Linked DNA regions of Homo sapiens: region 1 is linked to region 2. Evidence: fine-mapped expression QTL. A gene starts in region 2. The other region holds a variant in brackets. All regions are shown on one strand. Distances are between the middles of the regions. Region 1 overlaps PHRF1 (PHD and ring finger domains 1). Region 2 holds the start of LMNTD2 (lamin tail domain containing 2).

The links. PIP is the estimated chance that this variant, and not a neighbour inherited with it, causes the effect. A credible set is the group of variants that fine-mapping cannot tell apart.
Region 1: its variant is the best candidate, but not a certain one, in a credible set for the expression of LMNTD2 in Th2 cells (Schmiedel 2018, PIP 0.62).

What each region holds. Positions count from the first base shown.
Region 1 is chr11:588,766-593,273 of GRCh38, forward strand. PHRF1 (PHD and ring finger domains 1) reads left to right here. Exons shown (of 18, transcript NM_001286581.2): 5 at 2,619-2,702; 6 at 3,794-3,909. Among named protein-coding and RNA genes, the nearest start is that of PHRF1, 15 kb to the left of the region's middle. The variant C/G (reference allele first, on the strand shown) is at 1,840.
Region 2 is chr11:558,105-562,279 of GRCh38, forward strand. It overlaps LMNTD2 (lamin tail domain containing 2), which reads right to left and starts at 2,634. Exons shown (of 14, transcript NM_173573.3): 1 at 2,579-2,634; 2 at 752-875; 3 at 510-662; 4 at 57-144. The coding sequence starts at 2,612. It overlaps RASSF7 (Ras association domain family member 7), which reads left to right and starts at 2,866. Exons shown (of 6, transcript NM_003475.4): 1 at 2,866-3,373; 2 at 3,658-3,788; 3 at 3,975-4,175. The coding sequence starts at 3,665. LMNTD2-AS1 (LMNTD2 antisense RNA 1) reads left to right here and starts at 1,158. Exons shown (of 2, transcript NR_147607.1): 1 at 1,158-1,372; 2 at 1,675-2,002. RefSeq lists an enhancer at 3,669-4,175.

The sequences.
Region 1 (4,508 bases), 31 kb after region 2:
TGTATTTTCTGTCTGGCATTTATTAGATAAATATTGGGCAGAAGAGGGCATTTGCAAACAAGTTTGTCAGTATAGAAATCTTACAAATGGAACCGGGTGCAGTGGCTCACGCCTGTAATCTCAGCACTTCGGGAGGCCAAGGTGGGTGGATCATGAGGTCAAGAGATCAAGACCATCCTGGCCAACATGGTGAAACCCTGTGTTTACTAAAAATACAAAAATTATCCGGGCGTGGTACCACGTACCTGTAGTCCCAGCTACTCGGGAGGCTGAGGCAGGAGAATCACTTGAACCTGGGAGTTGGAGGTTGCAGTGAGCTGAGATTGCACCACTGCACTCCAGCCCGGCGACAGAGCAAGACACTGTCTCAAAAAAAAAAAAAGGAGAACTCTTACAGATGAACTGTTAAAATGCTGCTTAGCGAGATTATTGGATACGAGGTTAATAAAGATTAAAATTGTGTTTAGAAATAAGTCATAAGGAGACGTGTAAGACATTTAAAGAGCTTTTCTAACACAGCCGTGACTGAAGCAAGGCCCCTTCCCTTTCGAGACATCTTGCTCCATAGAGAGGTTGAGGATGCTGATTCCGTCCTTCCCAGCAGGAGTTCAGGGTGCTTGATGTGTTGTGAAGTCAACACAGGAGGACAGGAAGGCACCAAGAATTGCCAAGATAGCTTTGAAAAGGGGAGAAATTGCCTACTGGATATTATGATTTATAAAACTACAGGGATTGAACTGGAACCGGTCCAGGAATGGAAACCAGTCCCAGGGGTTTTGCAGGGGCTTAGAAGAGGCCTGGACACACTCGGGGGGGCAGGAGGCGCCTGTGGGGCAGGTCAGCTGGGGGCTGCTCACAGCACACACACGATGCCGGACGGAGTCAAGATCTCGGACTAGAAAGCAAAGCTGAACCTTTGAAAAGAAAGCATGGGTAGCTCTGTGATAAGAAAAGAGAAGGATTTCCTAAACAGTCTGAGAGAGTGTCTGCAAACGGGCACGGAGCATGTCAGGCTCAGCCTGAGAGGGTGTCTGCAAACGGGCACAGAGCGTGCGGGGCTCAGCCTGAGAGAGAGTCTGCAAACGGGCACGGAGCGTGCGGGGCTCAGCCTGAGAATGTCTGCAAACGGGCATGGAGCGTGCAGGGTTCAGCCTGAGAGGGTGTCTGCAAACGGGCACGGAGCGTGCGGGGCTCAGCCTGAGAGTCTGCAAACGGGCACGGAGCGTGTGGGGCTCAGCCTCAGAGAGTGTCTGTAAACGGGCATGGAGCGTGCGGGGCTCAGCCTGAGAATGTCTGCAAACGGGCATGGAGCGTGCGGGGCTCAGCCTGAGAATGTGTGCAAACGGGCACGGAGCGTGCAGGGTTCAGCAGCAGGGCTCCTCTGGGAACCCCAGTCCCACCATGGGGGGTGCTGCCGCACACCCCTGGAGCTGGTCGGTAGGAGGGCACCCCAGACTCCAGAGGTGGGGGTGTCACACGTACAACCTCAAAGGCCATGTATTCCTGGGTGTTTACCCAAGAGAAACAGGAGTGCGCCCACACGAAGACACGTCCATCGATGTTCACCACGGGGGAATGGACACGTGGACCATTTGTGTGGCAGTGTCTCTTCAGTGCTAGGGAGGGCAGAATGCCATGAGCAGAGTCCATGCTGCGGCTCCAATCCTGAGAAACCCCAGGGAAGACGTACCTAACCACACCCCTGAGACAACAGGAAGAAACAGTCAGGTGGGAGAGGGAAGGGCCCGAAGACCAGGGTGGGTACTCCACAGGTTGTATATTTGTCAGAGCCGATTGAATTATTCAGTTAAAATCAGTGTTTTCTTGTGTATGGTGTAC[C/G]TTAATAAAGCCAACATAAAGATCTTATGTGGGTCAGAACACTATTAATAAAGGCAAAAATAAATTTGCAACGTATACCTGACTGTTATCCATACTATGAAAGTAAATTTTTTTTTGAGATGGAGTTTGGCTCTTGTCACCCAAGCTGGAGTGCAGTGGCGCCATCTCGGCTCACCGCAACCTCAGCCTCTCGGGTTCAAACGATTCTCCTGCCTCAGCCTCCCGAGTAGCTGGGGTTACAGGTATGCGCCACCACACCTAGCTAATTTTGTATTTTTAGTAGAGGCGGGGTTTCTCTGTGTCAGTCAGGCTGGTCTCGAACTCCCGACCTCAGGTAATCTGCCTGCCTCGGCCTCCCAAAGTGCTGGGATTACAGGTATGAGCCCCTGCTCCCGGCCTATGAAAAGAAATTCTAAAAATTTACTAGTGAATGTCCAACAATCTTTTGGAAAAGTTAGCAGAAGACTTGAACAGGCTCGCCGCAGAGGGGCCTGTGCACAATGCCGCCCCCACGCCTGTCCTTCCTCCCTTTATTGTTCTTACTTGTCACTGAGATGCTACGCGTTCATGGAGCTGCTCTTTCCTCCCCGCTAGGGCTGGCAGCTCTGCAGGGAGGCAAGGCTCGCTGTGCTCCCTCCACTGCCGTGTTGCCAGCAGCTTAGTGGAGGGCCTGGCGCATGGAGGCATTTAGCAGATACTTGATTTTCAGTGTAAAAGAATTTTTGATCTCTAAGTGAAAGTGATTGACAAGATTCTGATCCTGTTTTTATTTCTCACAGAATGCCAATTCCTGTCCAGTTGATCGAACTCTATTTAAGTGCATTTGTATTCGAGCTCAATTTGGTGGTAAAATCTTAAGAAAGGTGAGTGTGGACGCTGCCGTGGAGGCCCCAGCCGTGCTTCTATCCCGGCCCTGTGGGACAGAGCATGCTTTCCAAAGTGGGCTTGCTCTCCTGAAATGAGGGTTGGTTAAATGCTTCATAGAAATCAACTCAAGTGCCCCTTGTGGCCATGAGCCCTGTCTGGGGGGTTTGGGGTCTGGGTTGGGGGTTAGAGGCAGAGATATTGCCAGCTCCTGGGATATCCCTTCGACCCCACCCCTGTACCCATCACATCTGGGAGCAGTGCTCTGGCCCGTCTGCTCGGAGCTCTTTATTTTTGAGACACCATCTTGCTCTTTCACCCAGGCTGGAGTGCAGTAGCACAATCACAGCTTACTACAGCCTCAATCTCCTGGGCTCAAGCAATCCTCATGCCTCAGCCTCCTGAGTAGCTGGGTCCACAGGCATGAGCTACCACACCCGGCTGTTTTTTTTTTTTTTTTTCCCGAGACAAGAGTCTCGCTCTTTTGCCCAGGCTGGAGTGCAGTGGCACAATCTCGGCTCACTGCAAGCTCTGCCTCCTGGGTTCACGCCATTGTCCTGCCTCAGCCTCCCGAGTAGCTGGGACTACAGGCACCCGCCACCACGCCCGGCTAATTTTTTGTATTTTTAGTAGAGACGGGGTTTCACTGTGTTAGCCAGGATGGTCTCGATCTCCTGACCTCGTGATCCACCCACCTCGGCCTCCCAAAGTGCTGGGATTACAGGCGTGAGCCAACGTGCCCAGCCTTTTTTTTTTTTTTTTTTAAGAGGCAGATCTTGCTCTTCCGTGGCAGTCCAGCACCTGCTGCCTCGCCCTACTGCGGCCCACTTTGGGGCCGCAGGGCTTACCCGCTCCTTTCCGTGCATCATACTTTGTTTTCTGTTGAATACTTTCCTCTTAGATCACCACCCTGAGATGGTAGAAAACATAAAAATCCCTGTGTACACGTGGAGGGAGACCCTCTGGGCCTGTGGAGCCCAAATATGAATCTAAGGCAATGGGTGGATTCTGGATTAACTGCGTTTCACGCTGGGAAGTGACTGCGGGGAGTTTGGGTCCTGTGTGGTGGTGACCGACGATTCTGTCCTAGATCCCAGTGGAGAACACCAAAGCGAGCGAGGAGGAGGAGGACCCGACCTTCTGTGAGGTGTGCGGCAGGAGCGACCGTGAGGACAGGCTTTTGCTCTGCGACGGCTGCGATGCGGGGTAAGGGACGGTTGGGACTGGCACACGTGCCCTGCTGCGTGCAAGGCGGGCCAGGCGCAGGAGGGATGCAGAGCCTCTTCGCTCTGTGAAGTCTGAGTCCCAGCACCTGGAGCTGTGCTCACCACCCTCAGCAGCGCGGTTCAGTCCTGCGGGCCTTCCTGTTACACTCATTTACACTTCAGTCTTTCCCCAAAAAACATTCTGAGGCTGCCCACAGAAGTGCAGGTAATACATCAAGACAAAAAAGAAAACAGCCGGACAGGAGGCTGTGGGGCTGGTCAGCCAGAGGGTGGGACGTGTCCTGGTCCCGGCCTTTGTGGGGGAGGGGTGGCTATGCCTGCGTCCATCATTCTGGCTGCCTTGGTCCCTCACCTTTCACCCTGCTCCTCCTTCACCCTCTGGTGCATGTCCAGTTATGCTGCACCTGCTGCTCTCCCTGGCACAGCTGAGAGCGCCTGCTCTGGCCCTGCGTGGCCCTGGCTTCCCGGGAGCCTGTGACACTTGTCTCCTCATCCCTGCTTTGTGTCGTTGGCTGTAAGCAGATGCCCCCTTCCCCGTTAGCCTCCTGCGAGGGGCTTTCCCTGTTGATTTGAATAATT
Region 2 (4,175 bases):
CCCAGCCTGGCTCCCCAACACCAGGACCCTGCCCACTCCCTGTGCCCCTGCCTCACCCACTGGGCTCGCTCCTTCTGTTCCTTCAACTCCTGGATCAGCTTCTGGACCTGGTTCTGCAGGAGTTTCTCCTGACTGTGGGAGCTCCTGGAGGAGGGGTGACCTCAGCAGCCCCCACCCTGCTCAGGCAGGGGTTCCTAATGTCAGGTCAGTGGCGAAGGAGGGGAGAAGGAGGGGCTCCACTGCCACCTTGGCCCCAAGGGCACACAGTACAGCCCCGCTGGGGCTGGCCAGCCTCCGGCTGGTCTGGACAAGGGTCTAGCACCCATCCACATGCGCAGGGTTAGGGTGGAGGCTATAGCGTGTTAACTTAGGATCAGGGTGGAGGGTCAGCGCGGGCAAGGATGAGGGTAAGGATCTGCCTCAGCGGTTGGGGTTGGGGTCAGACAGAAACCAGGAGTCCGGGCGAGGACAGGGCGGGGTTGGGTTGGGCTGGGGACTGTGCTGCAGACCTCTTGGGCGGAAGCCCCGCCACCTCTTCCAGGATGTGGCAGAGCCGGGCGTCCTCGCCATTCTGGATGGCCCACCGCAAGGCCTGGATCTCCAGTTCTCGCTGTCTCCACAGCAGCCGCAGTGTGCGAGGGTCCAGGGACTCAAGAGCCAACCTGCAGCGGCAGCAGACCCTGCTGCTTACTCAGGCCGGCCCCTGGCCACCTGGCCCAGGAGGCTCACCAGTCCTCCCTCTCCTCCTTACTGCGGGTCGGCAGAGCAGACCACCGGTGCGGGGTGGGGCGTGGTGTCTGGCAGGCACGTGGGAGTCTCGGGGGCTGCAGGTGCGCCTGCTGGAGGTCCCAGGTGACCACTGACCGACTCTTGCTCTGTGGGGGACAGGAGAGCCTCTTCCTCGGTTTCTTCAACCTCCTGGCCAGACTTGGGGGCCATTCTCAATGTTCTTCGGGAGCTGGGAGGGGTGGGGGGCCCGTCTGCCGTGTGCGCCTCGTGTGGCCACACAGGTTGGAGCAGCCCAGGCGTCACCACTTACTCACAGAGCGTTGCTCTCTGAAGGGACCCACATGTGGGTGTCCACACCCGTGTGTTTCTGACCAGGCTGGCGCAGCAGGTCACCACCCGACATGTCCCTGGCGTGTACCCCTGCCACCCAGGTGCTGGCCCTTTGCCTGTGATGTGGTGTCCCTCTTTCTCTCTCTTGTCCCCCCAGCTCAGGGCCCTACCCCCAGCACTCACCTGAGGCCCGACCTCCAAGCAGGCCTGGGAGGGAAGGGCTGTATACCGTTGCCATGGATACCAGCACCCAGAAGGGGTGGGGCTGTTTGTTACCAGGAGCCTCCAGGGAGACCCCAGACCAGGCCCCTAGGTGAGTTCTGGGCCAGCCCAGCCTGGAGGAGGTGTGAGAGGCTGAGCCACTGCTCAGCTTAGCGGGGGGACCACTTAGTGACCAACACCCTGAGGGAGGCCCCAGCATCCCCTACCTAGCCTGGCAGCAGCAGCGGGATAAATAGGGGGGCACTGCTGCCTGTGAGCCAGCCCAGCATAGCCATGGGTGTGTGGGGGAAGCAGACAGGTAACAGTGACAAGCTGGGGACTGTGCTGAACGCTAACTGGCAATAGTACACTCCTGCCCACAGCCTGTTTTTAAATTAATAATTAATTCTTTAGAGACAGGGTCTTGCTCCGCTGTCCAGGCTGGAATGCTTCGGTGTGATGACAGCGCACGTTAACCTCGAATTCCTGGGCTCAGGTGATCCTCCCACTTCCGCCTCCTGACTTGCTGAAACTACAGGCACCCGCCTCCACCGCCAGGCCCAGCCCACAGCTCCTTTGACCTCAGTGACAGGCACTCACCTACCTGACCCCCAAACTGAAGCCTCACTTTTCCCAGCCGTGTCCACACCCTCTGGGCTACCCCATTACCATGACAAGTATTCCCTCTGCTCCAGGAGAAAAGCCAGGTCCCAGACCTGACCCATTAAAACCCAATCATTCCAGCTTTCACCCTTCATCTCTGCAACTTTCGGCTATGTAAGGGCTCCCTGGGGGAGCACAGGAGACAGGCGGGCAGGAGGCCCACGCCCACAACTCTTTCTGAGCTGGGCAGAACAATCAATGGCCCACACAGCTGACCGCGAGGCTGCGGGGCCCTGGGCGGGACAGTAGGGTAGGGGGTGAAGGAGCGGCTTCCAGCCAGCTTCACTGTGTGCATGGCCTGGCACTGGGTCCAAAAGGGGCAGGAAGGTGTCGGAGAAGAGCCTCAGCTAGAGTCCGGGCCTTCTGAGCGGGCACCTCCCGCACCAGGACTCTGCGCCCGCCAGCTCCGCAGGGCTCCACCTCCCTCGCCGGGACTGGTGACCCTGCGACCCCGCGACCCCTGCGCGTCCAGACTACTGCAGCTGCGGTAGGCCCCAAAGGCTGGCCCGGGAAGCGAGGGGAGGGGCTGGCCCCGCTGCCCCTGGACGCAGGCGGGGGTTGCGGGATCTCAAGCCAGAGACCCTTCCTGGGCGGGAACCCGCCACACTAGAAGGCTGCTGAGGAAGTCGGCCCAGGAGCGGGGCCAGACACCTACCCCGACGCCTGCCCGCGGGCCGCAGCCACCGCATTTCCGCGTTTTTCGCGGTAGGCGGGAGGTGGGGGCGGGGACTGCGGCTCGGCGCCCCCCTCCGACCCGCCCACACCTGTAGTCTCGGGGGGGGCGGGGCGCGGCGACGAGCCAATGGGTCGGGGAGGGGCGTGACAGAGGCAGCCAATGGGCGCGGGGAGGGGGCGGAACGCCCGCGCTGAGCAGCCAATAGGGGTGCTAGGGGCGGGGCGTGCGGACCGCGGGCCAATGGGGGCGCGGGGCCCGGGTGCGCCGCGGCGCTGGGGGCGGCAGGTTGCGGCGGCGCCGGAGCGGGTCTCCAGGCTGGCGAGCGCCCAGGTGAGCCGCGCCGGGTCCCCGGTACTTGGGAGCGCGGGGCGCGCCTCGAGCCGGCCGGACGCCGACTCCAACTGGGGAGAGTTTTCCGCGATGCCCGGACGGAGAGCGGGGGCGGCGCCGCACCTGCGCCCGCCCTGCGGAACGGGGACGCCCTGGCTCCCGCCAGGCTGGGGTCGCGGCGCGGGCTTCGGTGCCCGCGGCGGGGACCGGGACTTTCGGGGCGAGCGCAGCGATTAGGCGGCAGCGGCGGGGCTCCCCGGGCTGGCGGGGGCTGCTCAGACCCGGAGTCTGCTCCATCTGCAGGGTCGAGGTCTGGGTTGCGACCCCGAGCGCCTCTGCGGCCTGAGCAGGTCGGGGTGGGGCGTTCCCATGCCGGCGGCCGCGGGGCCTGGCGTGCGGGCGCCTCCGCGCCGCCCGGGGAGGGGGCAGTGTCCTCCGAGCCAGGTGAGGCGAGTAGGAAATGCTGGATCTGGTTAATGATTCGCCTTGTTCCGGGAGTGCGAGCGTGGCAAGAGGAAGCTGGTGAAGTGGGGGAGGATGCGTGCTCCGGAGGGCCGCCACCCCAGGAATGTGTGGCTGGCGGGTGGGGCTGGCACAGGAGGGTGGGGCCCGTGCGGAGGGGCGGCAGCCCAGCCGTTTCTAGGGCAGGCCAAGAGGATGAGGAGAGGAGGACCAGCCTGCGATAGGAGTAGGCAGGTCCTGACCCGGTGCCTGCGCCCTCCCCACAGGACAGGCATGTTGTTGGGACTGGCGGCCATGGAGCTGAAGGTGTGGGTGGATGGCATCCAGCGTGTGGTCTGTGGGGTCTCAGAGCAGACCACCTGCCAGGAAGTGGTCATCGCACTAGCCCAAGCAATAGGTGAGTCCTCTCGGGGTCAGGCAGGCCGGGCAGGTAGAGCTGAAGTGGGACCTGGTGGTCCAGCTCCATGGTCTCCCCCAAGGAGAGTGGGGCTGGTTGCTGATCCTTTTTGTTCTTCCCAACTCTTCAAGCCAGGTGGACAGAGAGTCGGGGGGACATAGGCTGACCTTCTCCTCTTCTTCCCAGGCCAGACTGGCCGCTTTGTGCTTGTGCAGCGGCTTCGGGAGAAGGAGCGGCAGTTGCTGCCACAAGAGTGTCCAGTGGGCGCCCAGGCCACCTGCGGACAGTTTGCCAGCGATGTCCAGTTTGTCCTGAGGCGCACAGGGCCCAGCCTAGCTGGGAGGCCCTCCTCAGACAGCTGTCCACCCCCGGAACGCTGCCTAATTC